3 separate regions of the Homo sapiens genome follow, and regions 2 and 3 are each linked to region 1. Evidence: fine-mapped expression QTL. A gene starts in region 1. Each other region holds a variant in brackets. All regions are shown on one strand. Distances are from middle to middle.

Region 1 (10,607 bases):
CCAGGGGAACTCAAACAATTCGGAACTGGCTGCCTACAAAGCATAAATTCTGCCAGAATTAACAGGCTAATTTCAATTCTCCACGTTATCTGTCAGCTGACGCCTAGTCAAAGTAAAGATGTTTTCTTTTTCCTTTAGAACATTTAACCAGTTGCGAGTAACTTCTACCTATATGATTCTGTGTCCAAAGCCTCAAAAACAGCTATGTAAAACACCACCATAGGTTCCCTTGTCATTTAATTCTTCTCTAGAAATTTCCAACCAGAGAACCAACTGAAAATTATCCTGGAATCAACATTTCCACAATTGCATTATGTCATCACAGCCATGGGGACCCAGAAATGTGGTCATTGATCAACATTTCATAGAGTAAACACATAAAATCTTTGCCCTAAAAGCTAACAGTATTAGGATCTACCTACAGACCACCTAGTCTTTTAATTTCAGTTGCCTTCATAGTTTATCCTTAAGATTTCCACTCCTTTTCATAATGTTTTACCACAGCTAAGAGAACTACACCAGCTTCTAAAATACCCACAAAAGTCACATTCGTGATCACCTCTATCTAGAAATTAGCATCTAGAATCCATAAAGATGTGTTTTCTTTATGATGTCTGAATTGAAGGTCTGCAACATTAAAATTGTATTTCATAGCTTTTCCAGCCATTACTTGTAATAGACTTTAGAGAGTAATATGACATATTCTTTTTACAGCTTGCAATTCATAAAGCCCTACTAGAAGCCTTTAAAAACAAAAAAGGAAAAACACAAACACCTAGAACACAAACACTTAGAACCTTTTTTGTTTGTTTAGAAAAGTAAGGCATAGAGAGGTAAAATTAGCCTTAAATATGAAAGGGTACAAAAAAACTGAAGGTTTTGTTCCATTTTCCCTTAAATGGCTTTCATTTTTGGTATGAACTATAGTCTTATTCTTATACTATGGAAAAAGATCCTGATTTGTTGCTGATTTTATGATTTGCTGCAATAAAAGACCAATACCTTAAAGCAGTGACTTATTTTCTCCCTCCTATTCTCTTAATCTAAAATCAATAAAGCATGTAATAACATACATTACTAAACAAAACTACATACGCAAAATACTAAAGTTAGTAATTTCTTAAATAGCAGTTTTTTCATAACAATAAATAAGCATTAACTTGGCTTTTAAATATAACTTCGATCATGACACAATAATGGCCAAAATATCAAATGAGGGCACATGCTGTGCATTTCAGAAAAATTGTTTAAAGAGACCATCCCCTTTTGTATTTTCCTTTACTATCCAATATCCTAAAGAGTGCTTAAAGAATTGCTTTTCAACTCAATACAACACAAACAATTTTTCCTAAGAAATCCAAGCTGTCAACTTATGGGTCACATTTCAACCTTATGTAATTTGAAACAGCTACGGTACTGAATCCTTAAATACAGGGCATATAATGGAAGGACTGCTCACAGATCCTTGATGTTACTGAAGCTTGGAAAGCTTTAATAAGATACAACTATAAATAAAGACAACTAAGGAGCATTACCCCTTTATCCACAGCCCAAATCCCCCTCCAAGCCTTACATTTTATATTTCCAATAAAATGCTCTTCTAACACTAAGCCACTCATCTAAATTATATTTAACCAATGAAGGGTTAAAATCCAAAACATATTAACTACTCAAAACATAATAAATCCGTAATTGGTGAGCTCCTTTTCTACCCTCCTGCTTCAGTATACTGACATCTAAAAGTCAAAGAACTCCTCTGTTTAAGACTGAAATTCCCAGGAGGAAGGAAGCTCAGATCCAGTCTGAGAGCACACAATGGAATCACAGCTGACGATGCACATCTTTTTCTAGATGTCTCCATATGCTTGAGAGGTTTTTTTCCCCCCAAGCCAGCCATTAGGAGACTTGGTTCTCTCTGCCACCAAGAATCTTACCACATTTTCAAGGATTGTTGCAAAGAATTAAGTAAAATAATGTGTTGCTCTTCAGCATACAAAAGAGAGAAGGGCATATGTCAGAGTGCCCATAAGTAACTAAATTAACAAATGGTGGGGGGTTTTGAATGTTGTCAAATTTTGAATGTTGTTTTTAATACTCCTTACCTCTCTGTCAGTCTAAGTGTTTGGTTTACCTTCTCTGTTTTTACTATTTTATTACAAAAAACATCTCAAGAGCCACAGCAAAATGCAATTAATTCTTGTCTACATGCACCCAAAATGATCCTGAATTGGGAATTCTCATGGTAAATTTGAAAACACTATATTACAACAGAACACATTTGTAAGATTTGGCAAATACTGTTCCCTAGAACTGCAGTCCCCTTCGATTCTTTCTTAGCAACCCAAGATTAATAAAAGCTTGACTTATAGAAAAGATACACATTTTCCACATAAGATACCTAAAAGAAAACACTCCCAAAATTAAATTCATGGGATACTTATGACAAAAATCAATGAATTCATTCTTAATCTAACACTTTTCATTCTTTGAGCTCCCAAAGATTCTACAAATTCCAGGTGAGAAAGGGAGCATTACTTCTGTCAGTGTGCCTAACCTCACCAACAAAGAACAGGAACACACACACACATACACACACACACACGCGCACACACACATGCTTTGTAGCAGCTGCTTTCTTTTTAAAAGACTGCTATTCCTGCAGAGCAACCTGTGATCTTTACAGAGAATCAAAGACCTCTGTTCCTAAAAGTCAAGAGTTGAGAAAGTCACTTGACTGAACGCGCAATAAACAGTTAAAACCAAAGATGTCTCCAAACCTTGTATAAACCAGAAAAGTACCCACACACTGTACAATTCAGCAGTGTTTAAGAAAATTAAAATTATTTTTAAGAATCTTTTGTGTGGGAGTAATCTGGCAAACTACATTTTACTCAGACTTTTTCCTGTAGACAAATATTCTTTGATTAGCTTTGCTCCTTAAATACCCACACTTAATGTTTCAATCAGTGATGCTTTAGTTCCCAACTTCATTTTGTTTGCAAAAAGAAAAAAAAATGCATACCATAAACCACAACTTTTTTTTTTAATGACATCCCCAATGCCGAAGTTTCAAGTACACTTTGGGAACTGGAGCTCTAATTAAACAAGAAACCAGTGAAGCCATTATGAACAATGATGCTTTCTACTACCAATAATCAGTTGACGTGATACTGCTCCCATGCCTTCATTCTCAGGGTTCCCTTTCAAATTTCATTGTCCCCATTCTGGCATAGCTGAGTGAAACCGAGATAAGAGGTAAACGGGTAACTTCTGTCTTCTGTGACCCTTAGCATGTAAACCGGACGCTGAGGTCCAGGACATGATCACTACAGCATATGCCATTTTAGAAACCGGCCTCGGTGAGTTACTGCCACATCCTAAAGTGGCTTTAGACTTCGTCGTGTCTAAGACAACGTCTATTTCGGTACGAAAGACATACAGGACCTCGAGTGCCTCGGCAGCCTCTGCGGGTCGGAGCCCCTATAAGTGACACAACCCCAGAAATCAAGGAGCGGGTGACTCGGGGATGGACAAGAGTAGCTGGCTCTCAGCGTCTCCATGACTCCCCCGCCCCGCATGCAACTCTGCTCTAACTGGTCAGGAGAAACCCCGCCCCCTTCCTTCCTCCGGTCCGCACGATTGGCTCACCGACACCCGGCAGGTCAGCTCCCTGCCTTCGATTGGCTCACTGCCCCATCAGTCAGACGCACCGAGATTCGGGTCGGTGGGAGGGGAAGGCGTCGGAGGAGGTGGAGAGGGAGTGGGATTAGAGGACGAGGTGGCGGAGGAAGGTGTTCAGGCTCGGTCTCTGGTTTGGGAAAGTTTCCCCTACCAGTGACGGACCCAGAACGCGGGAGGCCCAGTCCAGCTCCGGGCCAGCGGAAGGGGGCTCCAGTCCCCGATTCCCGCCCCTCGGTCCCGCAGGCCCCGGAAACCACTAGAGGGAGGGGAAGAGGGAGGGGCCATCTAACCAGGGACCGACCCACCCCCGGTCTCGGAAGAGGCGCCTCTGGGACTCCCCCGAGGGGAGGAGGCGGGGAGCGCAGCCGGCAGCGACGACCCCGGCCCCCTCCCCCAGCACCCCCCAGGGGCCCGAGAGGGCCGGGTCCCCGTGCCCGGGGCGTGACCGTCGCGAGGCGGCCACAGGGCCCCTCCCGCTTCCCGCCTGGGGCCCCGAGGGCCTGTCCCTTCAGGGGCGGAGAGAAGGGGGCGAGAAAAGGGGGCGCTGGCGAGCCAACCCGGAACCTCCCGGTCCGCCTCCCGCCCCCGGCCCCGGCCCCAGCGCGCCTCCTGCATACACGCCCGCACCCAGAAAGTTCAGTCAGGGGCGAGCCCGGCTCGGCGCCGCCGGGGCCCGGCCCCCGGCTCCCCGCCCCCACCACGGCCCGGCCTGCTCGGCCCCAGCGCGCCGCCCGCCCCGCCCGCCGCAGCTCCTTCCCGTCCGCCCGCGGTGCTCGGCGCCCCTCGCCCCCCACCCCCGGGGCTGACACGGGCCCGGGCCACCCGCCGGGCCGCGGCTCCCCTTCCCCGCCCCGCGCTGCAGCTCGCCGGCCGCCCCGACACCCCGCTTCACCTTCACACACCCCCAGCACTTCCCGAGTCCTGCCTCCCCTCGCCCGGCTCCCACTCTCCGCTGCAGCCGCTCCGCGCTTCCATTAAAGAATGCACCTTCCCAGGATTCACCTTCTCGGCTCTGCCGCGCTGCCCCCGAGGGGTTAGAGCCTCGGTCTCCGCCGACCCCGCACCGGGCTGGGCAATGGGCACTCGCTCCTCGGGGCGGGGGCCGCGCCCGCACCCCCGGCCGCGCCTCGGCGCTCACCTCTCGCCCGCGCCGCGGGCTGCAGCCTCCGCCCGCCTCGCGCTCCGGGACTCGTCTCCTGAGCTCTCGCAAGGCGCTGGAGCGCCTCCTTTCTCTCCCGGGGACTCCGCGTCTCCCCGTCGCTTCCCGCCCTCCCCACCCCCAAGCCCCAACTCCCCAGCGTCGCTGCGCCTCCGGGATGCAACTCCCGTTTTCCGCGCACTCCGGCGGCGGTCCCCGCACACAAAAACAGCCTCTCGGAGGCGCACGGCTCTGTCGGAGCTCGGCGCAGGAAGGGCAGTCGCGGCCGGGGGTGGGGACGCGGCGCCCCCCGCCTGCCGCCCGCCCCCCGCCCGCCCTCGCGGCCCCGGGGGAAGGCGCGGTTACCGGCTCGGGTCGGTCACGCCGTCAGGTGCCGGCTGCCGTCGGCGCTGACCTTCGCCGCCGAAGCTGTAGCCGAGGCTGCGGCCGCCATGTTCCCGTGTTAATAACTGCTGCCTGGTTGTTTATTTCAATGGAGATCCTCCCCCAACTCCCTCCTCCTCCTCCTCCTCCTCCTCCTCCTCCGCGTCTCCGCACTTGCGGAGAGACAGACAGCGCGAGCTCGCGAGCAGGGGAGGGGGCTCGGGAGCCAGGCCGTCCCTCCCTCTGCCTCCCCGGCAGTGGCCGCCGCCAAGTCCTGTCACCGGGAAAAGGACGGGGCGGAAACTTGCCTCTCGCGCCCCCGAGGAAGGGGCAAAGGTGGACGCAGGGTTGTCCGGGGAGCAGCCCCTGGCCGCGGGGTCCGCAGCATCTCCGTCGGCAGAGTCCTCTGAGAAGGCGGCCCGGGGAGAGGTGAAGAAGAGTAAGGGGACAGGGGACAAAATGGGTGACTGTGGTAGAGGGAGGGTGACCTAGAGGTGACTGGAACTGAAGAGAGAGTCAACAGAGGACTGCATGGGAGGGCAAAGGGCAATGCCAAAAAGAAAACTAGCGACTGGGACGGGCCTGGGCCGCTGAGTTAGAGGCAGTGGGGCCTGGGGGCTGCAGACGGCAGGGACGGTGCCCCAGGACGAAGATCGGGGAGAGCCGAGTTCCAGGGTCGCCAGCAGAGGACCCTCGCGCCCGTCCGGCCGGACCCTTCGGCCAGCACCCTGCACCCCCTCGGGCGCACCTCACCCTACCCAACTCCCGGTCCTGCCGCTGCTCCCCGGAGGCGCCCCGCATCCGTCAAGTCCCCTACGGCTCCAACAGGGAGAGGCTTCTCCCATTGCAGTCCTAGCTCCAGAGGGGATGGAGAGGCGCGACTGTGGGAGCTGGAAGGGGCACCACCCGGCAATTGCGGGATAAAGCAAATGCTGCACACAGAGTGTGAAACTTAACCTGGTTGAGAATTTTCGGCACATCATGAAATCATAAGTTTGTATTGGAAAGTCCATTCTCTAGACATCCGTGAACAAAGTACTGAGGGGACGTAGGAGATTGGCACTGAAAATGCGAGAACCCCCATTTAAGTGTTACTTAGACCAATCTGTTTTACGCTTTGGAAAAGCAAGTTTTTTTTCCAACTTATACGGTAATTAGTTGAAAAAAAAAACTTTTGTTTAATGGCAGTTATCAAACTATGAGAGGAACATATTCCCTGATTTTAATCTTATAATGAGAAAGGTCACTTGCGGTAGACAATAAGAGTGTTTATTGAACACTTACTGTGAATCTGACTGTGCTAGGTGATGTATATATGCTATAGGCCTTAATCCTCAAACCTTCCGAAGTCATTGCCGCTTTTCACTTCACACAAAAAATTGAAGCTTAAAGTAATTTGCCCAGGGTCACAGCCAGTAGTTGGAGAGGATGTGAGCCCAGTTCTGGTGAGCTCCAAAGCCCATGCTTTTAAACATGTCTTCATCCTAAAATTTGTGGGTGTACCGCCAATTTTATTTGGGAAAAGAATAAAAAAAATGTGTGGGGTGTGTGTGTCTGTGTTTGTTTGTGGATAGAAAATGCTTGGAAGCCTATAACAACAAATGTTAGCGCTGGGGAGTGTAAGAAGTGGGTGATGAGGCACTTCCACTTTTTATTTTGCACACCTATCTAATGTTTGAAATGTTTGCATTGACTATGTATTAATGTATATTTTTAAAGGTTTTTTTTTTTTTTTTTTTTTTTTTTTTTTAGCTAGCTGGAATAATAGAATTATGTTCCCAAAGCGTTGAGAGGAAATGGAGAGTTTGTTTATGGCCTATCTTCTGCTAATACCAGTCTGTAGCTTGTCTACAATGGGGTAGTAGTCACCTGAGGTTTGTCACAATTCTGAACTCCCGATTTGCTTTCCTGTCCTCACCCCCAACTGTGAGTTATCAGGAGTTGTGATAATAAATAAATAAATAAATAAAAATTTAAAAAAAAGATTCTCCTTCTTGCTTGCTATCCCTCCCATTTTGGCAGAAGTCCAGAGTCTATCAGTCCTCTGCAATCGTAGATTTCACACTTTTTAAAACTACCCATGATACCTCTGCAAACAAATGACTCCCCCCATTGCATTCCCGTATTACCCAATAAAACGTCTTACGACGGCTGAAGACTTTTTCTTACAAGAAATAAACAAAAACGTCTGACAGCATAGTAGATGAGTTCCATGCCCAAGTGCTACTCAATTGCCTGAGCTTGAATTGAATTGTGTGACTTAAACGCGCTCTGGTACAATCTCTGGGTGCCCTCTGAACTTCAGGCTCTTGCTGTAACAGTAGTCTGTCTTGCACTAGAGTTGTTTATATGTTTGTCTTTCTCTTTCACTAGATTGTAAGTGCAACAGAGCCCAAGACCTAGTCTTGTTCTTGTTTGTACATGCTATAGCACCTAACAAGGAATGTATGATGTTTGTTGTTTCATTGAATTTGTGAAATATAAATAATAGTATCTATTCCGATCCTCATGTCCTCTTCCCCACCTCATCTTCCAATCCCTTGCTCATAAAACATGTTTATAAAAAACATCTTCCATACTTAGAAAGAACTTTGATTCCCATGAGACCTCAGAACAATTGTTTATTAAAACTAGCCATAATTTTTAGTGAATCATCACTATGATAATGTAAAATGAAAAGGTAGAGGAGGCGGTAAATAAGTTGGCTCAATGACACAAATTAAGAAAGGAAGAAGAAGGAAAGAAAAAAGAAGGCAAAGATATAGGAACTAGGTATATTACCAAGAGAGAACAACAAGGAAAAAATATGTGGGTGCAGATCATAAAGGGGAAGGAAATTATTGAAATTTAGTGGAAGTAGAAATAACATACCGTGAATGGATGAGGCAAGGAAACACCAAAAATGTCAGCAGAATCATAAATGCAGCATGGAAAAGTAAAGAAAATGACAAATTATATATTTAACAATATAACCTAGGAATAATCAGAACAATATGACTGCTACAAGACAAGAATTTCTATTTTTGTCTGCCTTTTCTTCCACAGTTTTCAAAGTACTCACTTTTTTCATAAGTAAACTGCATAAAAGTGGGAGATTCTATACTATTTTTGAGTTAATACTACTAGCATACATCATGAGATTAGAGGTAACAGTATGGTAAAAAAGAGCTATAGAATATAAGCAAATAAATATGATGTGAAGTGGTCTCTGTAAGTTACTGTGTGACCTCAAACAAGTCACTAAATATCGCAATTTCCTCATCTGTGTAATTGTTGCAAGACTCAAAATGGTGTAAATAAATGTACTTTGTTAACTATCAAGCTCTTTATACAGATGTAAGGGAATATTATTATGTCAGCTAATATGTAGCACAGTTATCTCTGTTTTGGTGCATTCCTAAATTGCCAAAGCAAAAATCTATAGTTCATTCTATTAAAATGTAATCATAGGGTGGGGGCGTCAGTTAAAACATTTGTTTGTCAATTTGATTATTGAACGACTGTGATGAAATGTTTCATTCTTATTGTTTGCTCTCTTCTAAATCCCTTAAATAGTATAACTACAATAAACAAATGTCTAATATAAGTCAAGCATATTACATAAATTTTTTCCTTACTGAAGTAGTCATTGTATGTATATTATTCTCATTTTATGTACAATAAAGCTGAGCTTCAGAGACTTCAAGTAAATTAATGCAAAGTCATAGAACTGCCTTCGCTGCATATCTAAGATTGTGTTAGGATTCTACTCTTCATCACTTGTATTTCTACTACTCTGAGAAACACATTGGCTGGGCGCAGTGGCTCACGCCTGTAATCACAGCACTTTGGGAGGCCGAGGCAGGCAGATCACGAGGTTAAGAGATTGAGACCATCCTGGCCAACATGGTGAAACCCCGTCTGTACTAAAAATACAAAAAAAAAAAAAAATTAGCTGGGTGTGGTGGCGCGCTCCTGTAGTCCCAGCTACTTGGGAGGCTGAGGCAGGAGAATTGTTTGAACCGGGAGGCGGAGGTTGCAGTGAGCCAAGATCGCACCACTGCACTACAGCCTGGTGACAGAGCAAGACTCTGTCTCCTAGAACATAATGCATACTCAATAAATGATCATGAAAAGAATGAATAAATGAATGAATGGGCTCCCTTCAAGTCATACTGTACACTGTCACAGGATTGATCCCCTCAGTCTTATTTTGTTACTTTCCCACTTGAAAACACTTAATGATCCTTCATTAACTATGGAATACAATTCAAATCCTTCATCTTAGATTAAGAACCTCTTTGATATACCCCCTCTATTCATACCTCCCTTATTTCTCCCCCTCTATTCATACCTCCCTTATTTCTCAAGCAAAAACAAATATTAATACACCCACACTCATTCCAGGGTATTCTGAGTGAGATTGACATGAGTTTCAATCTTGGCTCTTACTAACTGGGTGAACTTGGGCAAGTTATTTGGCATCTCTGCAAATTTTATCAGTGCAATAAGACAAGAAAATGAATTGGAAGGAGGTGAAACCAAACTTATTCACTAATGATGATATAGTGTACGTACAAAATTCAAAAGAATCCATGAACTACTAAAATGAATGTAGGATCACAAGGTACAAGGTCAATTGTATTTCTTCTGTATGTTAGCATGAAACAACTGGAAAATGAAAATTTTAAAATGCCATTTACAAAAGCATTTTAAAAATCAAAATTCAGGAATAAATTTAATGAAAGATGTCACATGATCTCTACATTGAGAAAAAAATATTGCTAATAGAAATTCACAATGGCCTAAAAACAGAAATAGACTGGGCACAGTGGCACATGCTTGTAGTTCCAGCTACTTGGGAAGCTGAGGCGGGAAGATCACTTGAGCCTAGGAGTTGTAGACCAGCGTGGGCAACATAGCAATACTGTGTCTCTTAAAAAGTTAATTTTTGTGTGTGTGTGTGACATGACCTTACTCTGTCACTCAGGCTGGAGAGTGCAGTGGCACAATTACAGCTCACTGCAGCCCTGACCTCCCTAATAGTCAGGAATACAGGTGTGTGCCACCACACCCAGCTTTTTTTTTTTTTTTTGGATTTTTTTTTTTTTGTAGAGATGGGGTTTCACCGTCTTACCCAGGCTGATCTTGAACTGCTGGGGCTGAAGTGATCTGCCCACCTAAGCCTTCCAGAGTGTTAGGATTACGGCATAAGCCATCATGCCAGACCAAAACATTAAATTTTTAAAACAAGAGATGGGACCAGGTATAGTGGCTCATGCCTGTAATCCCTGCACTTTGGGAGGCTGAGGTGGGAGGATCACTTGAGGCAAAGAGTTTGAGACCATCCTGGGCAACAGAAATGGGCAAAAGGACTCCATTTCTGTTTTAAAAAACAGTATTAAGATGTCATCAGTATTAACAT
Region 2 (5,000 bases), 210 kb before region 1:
TCTAGATGCTAACTAATTTAGTAATACACTATCATAAGACTTCAGAAAAGTTCTACCCAATGGCATTTTTCCCCCAGTGGCAGTTTGAAACAATAAGCTTAGCTTCAATGCAGATGCATGGGTTGAATCCAAGAAACCTGTTTTTGGAAATCCTGCCTGCCAGGTGATGGCTTACAGGTGAGGCTGAAGATGACTGATGTGACAGCTGGGCAGGTCCAGTTTTCAGAGCCATAGCAAGAACAGAAGGTAGCCTTTTTTTTGTAGACTGATAGCCTGGACACGAGGATGATGGTGTACTCATTTCATATGTAATTCACCTGCTTCTCAAATAAACTGAATACTGTCTTAGATTTGCTTTTTCAAAAACGCATTGTGTGTTGTTTTTAAATTACATCAACGGACAGTGGGCTTCCCAGAGAATGGAATGGTGGCAGTTTGTCAGCTCTGTATTGCCAAGGAAAATATTTGGCTGCATATAGGGTTTCCTGAGAGCAAGTTAGTACACGACCTCAATCTTTTCCAAGCTTATCATAATGCCGTAAGGCTATGCTGATTCAGCAAAGCAATAAATAATCACTTGCAAAATGCCCTGCTTCACAGGGATGTTATGAGACTTAATAAAATAATGCATGTGAAGCACTCTGAGCTCTACAGAAGAAAGGCAGGAAGTAATAATATTATTCTGCATTTATAATGACAAGCAGTCTTACAATGGCAAAAATCTAATAGACCTGTTCACAAATTACAAATAAAAACTAGCTTAAATAATTTAATTGTACAACAAAAAAAACCTGAAATCATTTCAGTCTGAAAAGTGGAATGAACAGACTTCATAAGGCTAAGTCAAAATGAAAAGAAATAGACAAGTTTCTACTAAACAGAAAGATTATATTGCTTTGTGAGAGAATAGAAATGGAATCAGAAACTTACAAGAAAGAAAAGTATATTTTATTAAAATTATTTTGTGACATTGCTGTTATGAATTAAATTTAGTTATATTTCTATGGCTTTCTTACTAATAAATTTTAAATCAAAGTCAGTATTAACAGTAATAAAATTTCTTCAGTTATCAATGATAAAACTGATTTAACTCTCAGTAGAATAAAACATGAATACTATACCAAATGTACATTGTTTCTTTTTAACAAATTAAAATAATGCTGGATTTTCTTTCTCTTCTTTTCTTTCTTTCTTCCTTTTTTGCCAACAGCATTTGTCTTATGGATGGGAAATGCCTATTTCTTTTTCCTCCGGACACGCCCAGCCAAAGGAACACGATGCATTAAATTCCACTTCATTTGGGGTGTCTCTCTACCAGAGCTGGCCAGGTTGAAGTGGCATTGCTAGGCTCTTAGGTGCCACTGAATTTACTGGATAGTGACGGGCCTTCTTGGTTCAGCAGATGCCATTTTCTCAAGGAAATCTCAGAATTTCAGGGGATCCAAGCTGTTTACCCTCTGTGCTTCCACAACATGTCCATAATATCATTTACTGTATCATATAAATCGTCTTATTTGATCTAGATCTCAGAACTCCCTCAAGATTGTCCAGTCTCTGAGCCAGAAATTCCATTTTTCATCTGTGTATCTCTATTCACCATGCAACTGCTGACCCATGTAGACACCATGTAGACCCAAGTGACCCACACTCTGGAGAAAACACTGTTTCCCTCAAGTGGGCTGAACAGGCTGTACAGCAGCAACTTCAAGCACATGGGACGAGGAATTTTACTCTCTAATTTTCATTTGTAATTTTGTTTTAGAGAAGTAGTAGTTTATGTTTTCTTTTTTAAAAATACATGATATTAGATGGTGGAAATGCAAAGATGAAAAAGACAAGCTCTGCCTCTTATAGGGTTTAGGGTGCACTGCCACGGTTAAGCCAAGTGCTGAAATGGGGTTAGTGGATTATCGTGATTAAAGTGTTAGGGATTTATGAACAAAAGAAAAATTAAATTTGAAATTTGTGAATTCATAAGTATTAAAAAGGTTTTTCTTTATTTAGCTAGAAGACTCCACTTGTTTGGAGAGTATAGGAAACAGCATTGATCTGGATGCTGAATAAAGAAAGACTCTAATTATCTAAGATTTTCACTAAGAATGCTTTCATCAGAGAATGAACATAGCAAAGCTGATTACTTAACTCAAAATAAACTTCCATCAACACACCAGGAACAATACATACACCTCAGGATGCTAACAGGGCCTAATTAGTTCTCTGAAGTATAACAGCTCAAAAAAATTTTTGGAAAATAAAAATGTGAAGATTAATAATCTCTTATATTATCCTCTCAGGATAAATCCAATTGCCAAGGAAATTAGACTTACAAATCTCAAAAATTCAGGCTAAGAACATACCCTGCAGGAATAAAAAGAAATCTGTTAATTTTTCAAAACTAAACCCAGTTAAGTGGTAGACTTAGAGAAAAACCTACAATCATGGAACTACAAAAGCATCTATACAAAGAGGAGTTATACTATCTGTCCTTTCTAAAGAAACTATGAGTCACTAAGTCAGGAATGGAACTAAATAAAACTCATTGGTGTTTAGATCTTTGCTCTCACGTATCCGAATATGGATTGGGAGCTCAATTAAAACCTTGATTTCCAAAAACAGAGAGGGTTTAGTAGAGTATATGAAAGTACCT[C/A]AGGGGCTCTTCAGACGAATTACTATAATAAACTATTTATAAGAAGGAAAGTAAGGCCTGGTGTGATGGCTCATGCCTGTAATTCCAGAACTTTGGGAGGCTGAGGCGGGTGGATCCCCTGAGGTCAGGAGTTCGAGACCAGCCTGGCCAACATGGCAAAACCCTGTCTCTACTAAAAATACAAAAAAAATTTAGCTGGGCGTGGTGGTAGACGTCTGTAATCCCAGCTACTTGGGAGGGTGAAGCAGGAGAATTACTTGAACCCAGGAGGCAGAGGTTGCAGTAAGCTGAGATCACCTGGGCGATGGAGTGAGACTCTGTCTCCAAAAAAAAAGTAAAGTAAAAGAAAGTTGGAAGAAGATGAACTTCAAATGACTACATTATAAATGAGAAAAATCAGGGGAATGGGAGTCTAAAAATCAAGGATCATTTGTGGAGGATACTTTGGTAAGGGAGCTAAAAGCAGTGGACCTAACAGCAAGAAAACTAATTGAGAAGCTGGTAGGTACATGACTTTGACACAAGAATATCTGATACTGCAGGTCTTTACAAACACTGATACCAGGTCCATAAACTTTCAGCTTCATCATGAATGACTTCTCCCACTCTCACTCCAAGGGTCATTTCAAAAAAAGTTAAATTGTTCATCATTTGTGTGCTTTAAAAAAATATGAAAATAGCCTTATTGTGTCCTATAGGCAAGGAATGGGCAGAGAGTATATTCTTACAATTCTGAGTGACTACTATAATGAATAGACAGAAATCAAAGATAAAACTTCTATCAATTTGAAGCCACTGAAGTAGTAAACAAAAACTCAAATGTCCACCTGGTTAGCCAGGTAATGTACAATCACTTCAGTACTGAAATAATGCCAGTCAAAAGACAGACAGGGTGGATTTCTATCCACTCCTCAAGCTGCACACATAGCCTCACCCACATTTCCTAGTCCCCCCACTTAGAATATCCTCTGGCATAGGGAGCTCCTAGAAAATTAGACTGAGTTTTCCTCTGAAGAGATGAACCTTACATTAATTCTTCATGTAATAAAAGACTCATCATTTACCTATACAGTGGCCTTTGTCTCTAAGAAAAGGAGGAAGAGAGAGGGAGGAAGAGAGAGGGAGGGAGAGGGAGAAAGAGACATACACAAATGGGATATGTTTTTATAGAAGTGAGAGAGACCCATGAGAATCTCCTGTGAGATTAAAAGAGATAAACTGAGGGGTTTCTAAAGACTGAAAAGGCCAGGGACGGTGGCTCATGCCTGTAATCCCAGAACTTTGGGAGGCCGAAGTGGGTGGATCACCTGAGCTCAGGAGTTTGAGACCAGCCTGGCCAACATGGCGAAACCCCATCTCTACTAAAAATACAAAAATTAGCTGGCCATGGTGGAAGGCGCCTGTAATCCCAGTTACTTGGGGAGGCTGAGGCAGGAGAACCGCTTGAACCTGGGAGGCAGAGGCTGCAGTGAGCTGAGATCGTGCCACTGCACTCCAGCCTGGGCGAGAGAGTGAGAATCCGTCTCAAAAAACAAAAATAAAAATAAAAACAAAAAATAAAAGACTGAAGACAACATGGGAGAGTTGAAACCAAGCTTTACATGTATTTCAAAGAATACATTTCCAATTGTATCTGTACGTGGAATACCATTTAGTAGGAGTTTTTAAGATTTGCTGAAAGTTTGTGACTTTTCCCTTATTTTACTTTGTTATTACAGTAACAATCCTTACTCCCCAAAGAGTTGAGCATTTGCTTCAGGGACAACTGTACATAAAAACCTGAATTTTGTGCTACAGCGGACCAGAGGAGGGGAAAAAAAAGAAATAAACTGATGGCTAGAGGAAGACAGCAGAATGGGAAGCAGGTGACTTATAAAGTAAAGGAAGGAACTTTGCCAGAGTCTTAGAAGAGTTACTGTGCTAGCCTGAGCCCTTAGTAGCTCCTGGCTTCCAGCCTGTGCATACACCTGTGACTGGACAACCCCACCACCCACGGGCCTGCCCCTCTGCTCCTAAGAGTCTTGCCTGGTATTTCATGGCAGTGGAGGCCTGCAAAGGGAGGAGCCAGGACACTACCAGGGCAGAAAGGAAGGAAGAGGCAACCATGCTCCAGGCTTCTCTGGAAATCCAGAACAGATCTTCCCAGGAAATATATGGATGTGTTGATCAATTAGCCTCTATAGTATCCCTCCTTGTAATAAACATTGGGTCAGTGGTTCCCACCTTTTGGGGTAAGAGGGCTCTTTTTAACATCAATAAAAATGGAGACCTGGCCAAGAACGGTGGCTCATGCCTGTAATCCCAGCACTTTGGGAGGCGGAGGCGGGCAGATCACGAGCTCAGGAGTTCGAGA
Region 3 (10,607 bases), 180 kb before region 1:
GGTTTGGGCTGCCAGCCTCCAGTTTCAAGAGTGATCTTGCACCATGTGGAAACTACAGGTGTTGTAAGGGGCTCCTCCCAGTCTCTGTTTTGGGTTAGCCAATGTGAAGTCTATGCTGCAACAGCTCACCCACAACAGACAGCCCGGGGAAGAGCCAGTGCCAGGACACGAAATTGAAGGTTTTCAAATTTAACTAGGTACATCTGACACCCCTGTAGCCCCGAGTTCCTGCACAAGGCCTCTTAATCAATGCCCCCTAGTGGGGGATCTTCCTGGCCCCTCGGGAAGCTCCTGTGCCTGGCTCTCCTGCAGCAGCTGCCTGGCTGCTCCTCCATCGGTGCCCTCTCTCTGTGGCAGCTCGCCTCCCTGCACACAGCATGGTCACTTCCTCTCTCACATCCTGCCGCCTCCAAACTTTCCTTCCCTCAGCTGGTTCTGGCTGCTAACGCCAAAGGTCTTAAGATATGCCCCAGAAGTCAGGGGAACTTTACTGACCCCCAAGTGGGAAGAACCATGATCAGCTCCTGCTTGCTGAATTCCTCTCAGTAAGAAAATAAAAAAAAATGTAAGAAAATCAGTGTGCTCGTCATCACTAACATAATCAAAATAATATTTAGGTAAGCAAGAACAAGCCAGTGACAGAGGTTTACGTACTGAAAGAGCTAAACAAAGAGACTTACAAAGACTGTGAGGAAACCATAAAAGACTGCTACTCAAGGTGTTCAATAACTGCTTACCAAAAGAAAAAACAATGCAGCAGGACAAGCTGAAATCTGCATTTAAAGTCTTTCCTAGAGCTCCTATTCGATACTACTTCCCCTTCCTTCTGGCCCCCAGACTTCTAAATCACCTTTGCCCCTCCTTTACTTTTTGTAGTGGCTTCTTTTCTTTTCTGGATAGAAAAAAAAAAAAATCAAAGGGAAGGTAAAGTGCATTAGAAGACAGAGAACTTAAGGAAGATGACAGAGGACAATCAAGAGTAAGGACAAAGAGCAAGGAGGGCTAAGGAACATAACGCGTACCAGTCAAACCGCCAGGCCACTTCTTCCCTGTAATCTGGGCTGCCCAGTCTCAGCTGTACTACAATAATTTCTTCTCGCCACTTCTGATACAATAGCGCAGTGGAGTTAGTTTTTTTTTTTTTTTTTTTAAAGAGTCATATGTAAGCAGAATGAAGAAATACTGTATCCGTTTAGGGAGGCTGCACCACTGGTACACATTTGATTCAAGAGGTGACACAGAAGGGAATAATTCTCAAAGCTGATACCCAAGCTTCTTGCTGGTTAGAGCAATGCAACCAAGTCCCAATGTCCCACACTGTGGTCACAATTTTGGCCTGATAATAAGTATAATCTGTATTTATTTACTATGAGAGAGGCAGACTATGAGAGGCAGGATAGCAGAGAAGTGAAGGGCCAGTATTCATGTCCAAGCTTCACCACTTTTAGCTATGCGAGGCTCACTTGAGACCAGGAGTTGGAGACCAGCCTGAACAACGTATCAAGATCCCATCTCTGTAACAACAACAAAACCCTAAATTCCAGAACCCTTCTCAGATGATACCTTATAGACATTCACTTTCAGTACTTCTCTCTGAATCACAATTCCCATGGTTTCAATCATGAGATGTAAGAAAAAACATTACACATCCAGTCTAAGTAACCTTTCAACAAATGACCTAGGAGATTTTCACTCTGAAAGCAGCTTTCTAGAAGTCATACAAACTTAAGAAAGTTTCTATCATTACAATATAGCCTTCAATATACAGCATAGCAAAATGCCCTATATAGTAGGTATAGGTGACAAGTTTTTTTGTTAAAATGGCTATTCCCCCCCTCAAAAGCAATGCCACATATACTAAAATGTATAGTATTATCAGAAAGATCAGAAAGCTTTCAACAGACAATTAAAGTAAGGAACTGTTTTACCTAAAGTCATATACACCCAGTTTGAGGATGATTTAACATTATATATATATTATTTGCATCATTTACCTGTGAATATTCTAAAATACATACACGAACAATTGTAACATATGAGGGACAGCACTGGGACATAGGGACCAGAGGGAGAGAGAAGAGGAGCCATTTTCTAGTCTAAGTATAGTAAAATCATTTGAGCAGACTGTTTATAATTTGCTTGTACCTACTCAAGGTTGGCTTAAAAACCACTCTATTTGTAGACTGAAAATATCATAATTTCCTCTTGAAGTAAGTTATTTAAATGCCAAGTGGTTTTCCCTTTTATTATGTAGTGGTATCTTAAACACATTTCCTCAAAATCTGCAACTTTCGGCTTGATGAACATAATTGCTTCCTTATATTTTTGTGTCTACTGCACATGTCCTCTTCTCAGAGCAACATTCCTGGGCTATGTGCCCCAGTACACACCTCCAACCCACCTTTCCACCACCAAGGGGAAAGTGGGGTGGAGTCGGGGATGCCTGGCCAAGCCAAGGAAGGATGGCTGCCTCCTGGTAACCTCCAGGAAGTGCCAACATGCAAGGATGCCCTGTCTGAATCACTGCAAATCACCCATAAAAACAAAAAGGAGACAGACCTGAGACCAAAAGTGGGGGGAGCGAATGTAACACTGACACAGGAAGGGCAGGAGGAGGGTGGAGGGGGGGCAGACAGCTGCAGTCTTAGAGCAGACACATAAATTTATGCCCTGCATTTTAGTGGGAGAGCCGAATAAATAACAGAACCTCATGAATGAGGTGCTCTAACCTAGTGGACTGTCTGATATTTCTAATGCTTATGTGAGGAGGCTGGGCTGGCAGCAAGTGTCAGTATTTCACACTGGAACAGGAGGTGGGGCCAGGTGAGTTCATTTTTCCCCCAACTCAAAATACTGGGCAATGCAGAAGTGACACAAATAAAAACCAGAGAGAGATAGATAAGTTATAAAAACGACTTTCTTCTAAGTTATATAAATTACTTTTTCTATACAAATGTACATTCTAGTGTATAGTCACTCATAGAGAAATATCTAAAATAAACTCTATGGACAGAGGAATTTTTATGCACTTTTGTAGATCGAAGTTAAAAAATTCATTTCCAGTGTAAAGGTAGGAGATGGAAAATACTAAAGAGCAGCACTGAAGGTTCTAAAATTTCATTTGGTGACCAGCTCTAAATTAATAGTTTCTTATAATTTCTGCACACTCACATGAAATTAAAATTCTTAAGCATCTCACTCTCAATGCTGAAACTGTTTAACGTAAATCACAAAAACTGAAAATGACACAAGTAAACTCTCAGGCTGTATTTGATGGTAATTACAGTCATTGAGAGCAAACCAGTTTCTACCAGATGTTGGGGGTTGTGAAAGGACAAGTCTGAAAAAAAAAGTTTCAAATCATCCATTCTTGTTATCTGTAACAACACAATAGCCCTGTTTTCACAGTGACCATA[C/T]ATCCTCCCTTACATCCCTTGATATCAGCTTGGATGAGCTAGACGGTAGGGAAGAGTTATAGCCTTACGATTAGTAAGTTTTATCTCTAAAAAGTAACAATATTCTGGGAGGGGTGAACAAAGCCAGTTGAATCCTTAGCATAATGACAGAAAGCAAAATAAAATGTTAAACCTCAACACAATTCAAAAATGTACTTTCATGGAATTCACCAATATAATTTATAAGGTAACAAAGCTGTTGCTCTCAATACAACCTCATACCATTAAAGCTTGTTAATCATCCATAATTTATGTAAACGATAATATGCATTTTATCTTTTATCAAGACAGCCTATCTTCCAAACAAGGCTTGTAAAACTGCCAGATGCATTATATACAGAACAAATTCAGTTAAAGAATAAGGATACTACTGCTGCTGAACTCCAAACATAATAAAGTGATCGAACATCTGATCCTGACTGCTAGCTCCAATAAATGTTCTTAAAGTTAGGCCTTCTCTGAAATTCCCCAAGTTAGAAACGACACAGAAAGAGCTACTGAAACCACTTCTCTTATGAATGTCTACTTGAAGAGGACCTGCCTGATAAATCATCTAGCTCTTGTTATGAGAACAGAAAGACTTAGAGATTTCCGAGGTTCCTTCTGAGCTCTCTTTACGATAGACATATGAAATTGTGTAATATGTAGTCTAACCCTTTACAAACTTTTAAAACCAAGAAATGCTCAAGCAATATTAAAAGTATACATAAAACCTCACTTAAATACCCTTCCATTTCTATTTAACTAAACTACAGAAGGATAATCTTTTAGAGCCCACTGTTTCTCAGAATCCCACCTCAACAGCTAAAGCTGCATCCACTATTGCTTTATCACAAATGAAAACATTTGCTCATTCTAAACTGGTAACAGTTTCTCCTTCAAAGTACACTGTGTTCCAAGAGCGATCCCTTTATAAGGATAAAAGCAAAATTTCTGGGCCAGGCTCTGATAAGTCTAAAAAACATAGTATCTAATGCTTCAATAAACAAAATGTGCTTTTTGGATGTAGATGCCTGAGAAAGAAAAGAAAGTAGGCCAAACTTGGGAAGTCAGTAAGATGATACAGAAGACATCCAGTTGCTAGAGGAAGGGAAATACCTCTTTTCAAATAGGGTTAATTGGTCGAAATTACCCAAAGCAGACATTATTTTGGCAAGATCCCAACTTCTGGCAACAGTTGAATAAATATTCTATGCAGGAAATATACAGACTACTCAAGGATATAATGTTGATTCATACAAAGAATCATCACACAGACAAATAAAACAGAAGTAGAACTATGTGGATTTACTAAATGCTGGGATGACAGCGCACAGAAAATCAAACGTTGCTTCCCATTGGCAAACAAGTAATGCATTCAACAGTGATAGAGGACATGACACAATATTTTTAAAATTTTTACCTAGTAAAATTATGTATTATTTCCTCCCAAGTGTCATTACTCTTTTTTACTAGATCATAAGGGCTCTTTTAACGTCATCTTTACGTAATACTGTAGTGCTTCTTGGTTTTCATACAGTAAAATTTTAATTTGCCTCACATACTATAGTCTGTATCTACAGATTAATGTACAGAATCAAAAAACTGTACATTAATTCATATAGTAACAACAGTTAAGTTACAAAGTTTTAGAGGACTCACTTCAAATAAATCCAGAAAAATCTAGAATTTGTTTTCAAATAAGTTCAACTTTACTAGTTTAGAGCAGTTTACTGTACATTTGCCTTTTAAAAATAACAATAAGATAGACACAAACCACTATTATTAGGATATGATTTTTCAATACTAAAACACTAGCCATTTATTGTTAGGTAGAGGATTAAAGAAAATAACATATCCTGCAACCACAACTAGTCTCTAGGTAAACTGGCTTTAGCACCTACCTTCTCTTATGCTGTGTCTTAGTCCAGGAACAGTAATAACAGTATATAAACAAATGTTTAAGCTAAAAATTCCTTCCTCTCAGTATCGTCTGCTCTTAGATTACTTTTGTATAATGGCCTTAAAGTGGTATATTAGACAGTAACTAGAAGACATATTCCATTTTCTGACTGAAAGCCAATAATACTCATGAATTTTTTAGCTGAAAGACACTTCAAGATGCCATTGGGAAGACTGTAATAAACACATTAGGCTGCAAATGGGCAGTAGCAGCTCTTTAACACATGCTGCAATAATCAAATAAATGGCTACATTCATGTTCACTGGTTACACAAATATTTTGCTGCAACATATCCATCATCTGCATCTGTCCTAAAGAAGGGGAAAACCTCCTTCAAAGTCTTATCTTAGCAGAATTCAGGCCAGAATACATAAGTAGCAGGGAGCTGTTCTAAACTATCATTACCAACATGGGCGAAAATGTCTAGTCTGACATCAGTGGCACATGATGGCTTCTACTTTCTAAATTCTCATAGGCCAAGTTCCTTAACATAGCCAGTTACTGGACTGCTTATATATCGACGTCAGCTGGTGCGAATATGGCCAGGAATAGCAAGACTAGGTTTTAATGAGGCCTCAGATGAGAAAACATCGCAGGAAGAAGCTGCATTCCTTGCATAACGTAAGCATTTTCTCTCCCCTTCAAGCAGAGTGTACTCAGTGTCTTTTTATTATTCTGAAAACCAGTTTTCACCAAAGGCTTAGCATTCTGGAAAGAAGTCATCAAATCAAGGACTACAATGTAGCACTTGTGTTTGAGTTTCATAACTTGTCCAGACTAAAATTCAATTATCTTTCTTCATTCTGAAACCCATTTTAAATTTTGTTATGAGATTAAAAAATGACTTTCTAATTCCTGAGAAAGTTAACTGGCAAGGTCAAGACAGTCTGTACCTATACAAAGAGTGTTTTTATCATTTGAGTTGTCAACAGTTCTTAAATAAATGAGAGTTCTCTCTCACAGCATAATATGTTGTTTGGTTTTTTTGCTAACATTTATTGAAGACTTATTATGAGTTAGGTTACTTAGCACATATTTCCTTGCTTAAAAGCCACAATTTGATATGTATGTATATATACATCTTATAGATTATCTAACCTCTCCGACCTGTTTCCTAACAGGTCACACAGATCACGGGTGTAATGATAATAACCATCATCCATGGAGTGTTTCTACATTGGTTGGCGTTTTCTACGTACTTTACCTGTATACACTCCTTTAGTTCCTGTAACAGCCTGATTATCACCATTGTATAGATGAGGAAATTGAGGTACACGAGAAATAAAGTAACTTGAACAAGGCCACACAGGAAGTCTTGGAGCTCATGAATCCAAACAGTTCCTCAATTCTTAACCACTGTAATGTGGGCATTAAAGGGTCCTATACTTTGACACTTTCACTGAAGAGAGAAATTTATAAACTAGTATGTATTACAGGAAGCACTATATTTTAACTTAGTCAACAGTGACTATGTAATTTGAAAGCACTTTTCTTTTTCTTAAAAACAGTATCACTGTGAAATGTAAAACACTTCTTTCTGTTAAACAGTGCATATGTTAGAATCATGTATCCATTTATTCAATATATAACTAATGCTCCAGGCACTGCTGCAGACACTGGAGAGAAAGTCATGACAAAACAGCTAACAGTCCCTGTCCTCCTGCAGCTCACATTCCAGTGCAGAAAAGATGTCATGCTCAGCTCATGCACAATTATTCCCCGAAGATAAGCAAATATTTTTGTTATTACTGAATTTATTATGAAGCTATTAAATAAGACACCAACTAGAAATTTTATCTGGCATACCAAGAATGCTCAGTTTCACTTAAAACAGTAAAAGCCTTTTCTTCTGTTTCAGAAATGGTAATTGGTTAATTTAAAAAGTCAGTTATGAAGGGTAATTGTAAAAATGATACATACTACACCTTAATAATTTCCTTTTAATTTTAAACATATAAATGTAACTTTGAGTCTCAGTCTCCACTGGAGTTTCACAGTGTCCTTCTTGCATAAATCATACCTATACCTATAATTTATCATCTAAATAGTGGGCAATAAAAACAGTGTCTACTCTCCAATTTCTGTTTATTTAAAACAGACCTAGAACTTATAGACACTTAGATTTCTTAAAAGTGCTTATAAGGTGCAGATTTGTATGATTTTTTCCCAGTCTATTAGACATGTGTTATGTGTCCTATACACCCATTTGGCAGCAATGTTTCTTCATTTCACTTTGAGTCTTAGTTTTCACAGAAACAAATGTATCTTTTCAAACTCACACTTGATACGTTACATATATTTAATTAATTTATTATATTACATATATATTAATTAAATTATGTCATTATAATAAGAAGTACAACTGGCAAAAACTGTCCAGGAAACAAGAATCTGGCTCTTGGTAGGCATACAATATCATGGCTAGGCGCAGAGTGCCCCACTCCCTGCCCCGCTCCTCCCTGTCCTCCTGCTCCTCTGTTCCCCTACCCCTCTCCTCTCCTGTCCAGAGTCTCAGTCTCCACTGGAGTACTTAAGTTGCCCATCATCCCGAGACTCTCAGACAGCGGCAGCAAGAGGACATGATCTATTAAGGGGGAATGCAGATCACAACAAATATTAGTGAATACCTATTATGCACCAAGCAAGGTTCTAGTTATTGGAGAATATAGCAATAAACCCAATAGACCAAGTCACTGACTCTTATATTCTAACAGGAAAGTAGGGAGAGGGTGGGGAATAGTAAAACAAACAAAATATTTACCACATCAGATAGTGATTAGAGGTATAAAGAAAAACAAGGTAGGGCCAGGCGCAGTGGCTCACGCCTGTAATCCCAGCATTTTGGGAGCCGGTGCAGGTGGACCATGAAGTCAGACGTTCGAGACCAACATGACCAACATGGTGAAACCCGCCTCTACTAAAAAAATACAAAAATTAGCCGGGTGTGTTGGCGCATGCCTGTAATCCCAGCTACTCAGGAGGCTGAGGCAGGAGAATCGCTTGAACCCCCCAGGCAGAGGTTGCAGTGAGCCAAGATTGTGCCATTGCACTCCAGCCTGGGCGACAGAGTGAGACTCTGTCTCAAAAAAAAAAAGAAAAGAAAAGAAAGAAAAGAAAAGAAAAAGAAAAAGAGAAGAAAAACAAGGCAGTAAGATTAAGAGAGTATAATGTAGATGGGGTGAGGGATACTATTTTACATAGGTAGCCAGCAAAGTCCTCTCAGATGAGTGTTATCTGAGAGCTTTCTAACAGATCTCTAAGATTCATAATATAATTTCTTTAATATACAACCATTAATCATATGAAAAGCGGTACAATGTTGTGGCCTAGATCACATTCTCTGGTGTCAACTCTGGCTGGAAATCCCTAGAACACTACATATTTGACCCGTGGCAAGTTATTTAATTAACCTCTTTGGAGCTTTGTTTCTTCATTTGTAAAACTGGAGCAATAATACATACCTTTATAGGCTTGCTGAGAGCATGAAATGTTAAGGGCACAGAAGAGCAGCTGGCATATAGTAAGGGCTTATTTAATAAACATAAACTGTTATCTGAATTTAATAGACTATAAATGTTTATAAAATAATCTAAATTGATGGTGAATTTGGAAAGAAAAATTAATTTAAAAAGAAAATTAAAAAATTAAAAATTAATTTAAAACAGAAAAGTTATCAAAATATTAGCAGTTAAATTATTTCAATGGGCATTACGGATGTAATTTAATTTTTGTATTTTCCAAATTCCCTTTCATTAACACATCAGACTTTTGTGAGTTTATAATAAGAAGGAAGAGGGAAAGAACAGGAGGGAGAGAGGAAAGAAAGAAAGAAGAAAAGGAATGAAATAAAGCTGACTGTGCTGCTGGGAAAAACAAACAAACTAAAACCTAGGCAAACCAAACGGAATTTTTAAAGTAACCTGCTCTTTGGAATATAAACTGTAAGTGTATGAATTGTTTACATGCTTATTTTCAGAAAAAATCTTGCAACAACTGAGGGAAACCTATACTGTACTAAGTGGCACAAAGACTGCCTACAATGAATGAAATGAGAAATCAAATCTCATTTTACTGGTATTAGCAATGAAATTTCAAGTAAAAATTATTTTCTTTGGTAAACCAAAGGATAATTCTATAACAATTTCCAACCTACTAAATCTGTATAACTATACTTAAAACTTATGTTTTAATTATTTATATATATATATATATATAAAACTATACTTAAAACTTAGGGTAAACTTATATTTATCCTAAGTTCTTCTGTATAATATAGACAGATACTTAGATATTTTAGAGTCATTAGCATATCATATGTTCTTTAACTATATGGACTTCTCATGTTTTTTCTTCTACCAACTCTTTCAGAGCAAGAAATATATCTAAATCACAAGAGCTTTCCAGTAAAGGTTACTAAAATTGCCCTTCTATCTCAGAAAAATCTGGTCTATCCTTCCAAAGCAGCTCAAAGCATACTCCCTTTACGCAGGCTTCACAGATTCCACCAGGAAGAATTAAAGGTTCCCTTTTACTTTTTCCAAGCCCATGGTATGTTAAAGTGAAAGTAACACTTTTTTAAATGCCTCCTGATCAGCTGCCTCTTTCCCAGGAGAGGGTCCACGGTTTTGTTGGCACCCACTGTCACCATGAGGCAGCCCTTTGTGGGCTCCAGGCAGGCTCATGCTGCTGCCTCCCACTCGAGTGTCTCTGTCAGGGATGGGCCTTAAGAAACTCACTCCTTCTTCCCTTTTGTCCACTGTCACTCATTTAACTCCAAACTTTCCTGTGGGTTCTTTACCTCAATCAAACAGAAAAGCACAGTTTTGCCTCTGCAAAACTTTCAAGCATGTTGCATGAAAAAAGTACAGGACCCAAATTTAATAAAGGCTTGTGGTTTGATAAGAAATAAGGGACACAGTTATAGGCTGTTTTGGCAGTGTAAATAATGCTTCCTTTCTAGGGTGAGTGTGTAAGAAGTATTCTTCTGAAATACCTTTTTATGCTCTTTTCTCTGTTTTCCACCACACTTCTACAGTGGTAAAAAATAACAAGAAGGAAAAATCTAGTTTGGGGGGACCTCTGAATCATTTTCTTACCATACAAATTCCTAAAAACTTACTCTTCGTCAGATCATTACAATTATTCTGAACACTACTTGCTATGAGGCAATGGTTGACATTAATAATGAAAATGGCAGCTCTAGATTAACA

Evidence for each region. PIP is the estimated chance that this variant, and not a neighbour inherited with it, causes the effect.
Region 2: its variant is fine-mapped to the expression of NCOA2 in blood mononuclear cells (TOPMed, PIP above 0.99).
Region 3: its variant is fine-mapped to the expression of NCOA2 in whole blood (TOPMed, PIP above 0.99).

Annotation. Positions count from the first base shown.
Region 1 is chr8:70,398,515-70,409,121 of GRCh38, forward strand. NCOA2 (nuclear receptor coactivator 2) reads right to left here and starts at 5,294. Exons shown (of 23, transcript NM_006540.4): 1 at 5,186-5,294. RefSeq lists silencers at 3,891-4,550, 4,581-4,870, 4,911-5,220, 5,911-6,070 and an enhancer at 5,691-5,810.
Region 2 is chr8:70,187,869-70,192,868 of GRCh38, forward strand. All of the region lies in intron 4 of NCOA2 (nuclear receptor coactivator 2), which reads right to left. Among named protein-coding and RNA genes, the nearest start is that of PRDM14, 120 kb to the left of the region's middle. The variant C/A (reference allele first, on the strand shown) is at 2,648.
Region 3 is chr8:70,217,069-70,227,675 of GRCh38, forward strand. All of the region lies in intron 2 of NCOA2 (nuclear receptor coactivator 2), which reads right to left. Among named protein-coding and RNA genes, the nearest start is that of PRDM14, 150 kb to the left of the region's middle. RefSeq lists an enhancer at 2,464-2,513. The variant C/T (reference allele first, on the strand shown) is at 3,417.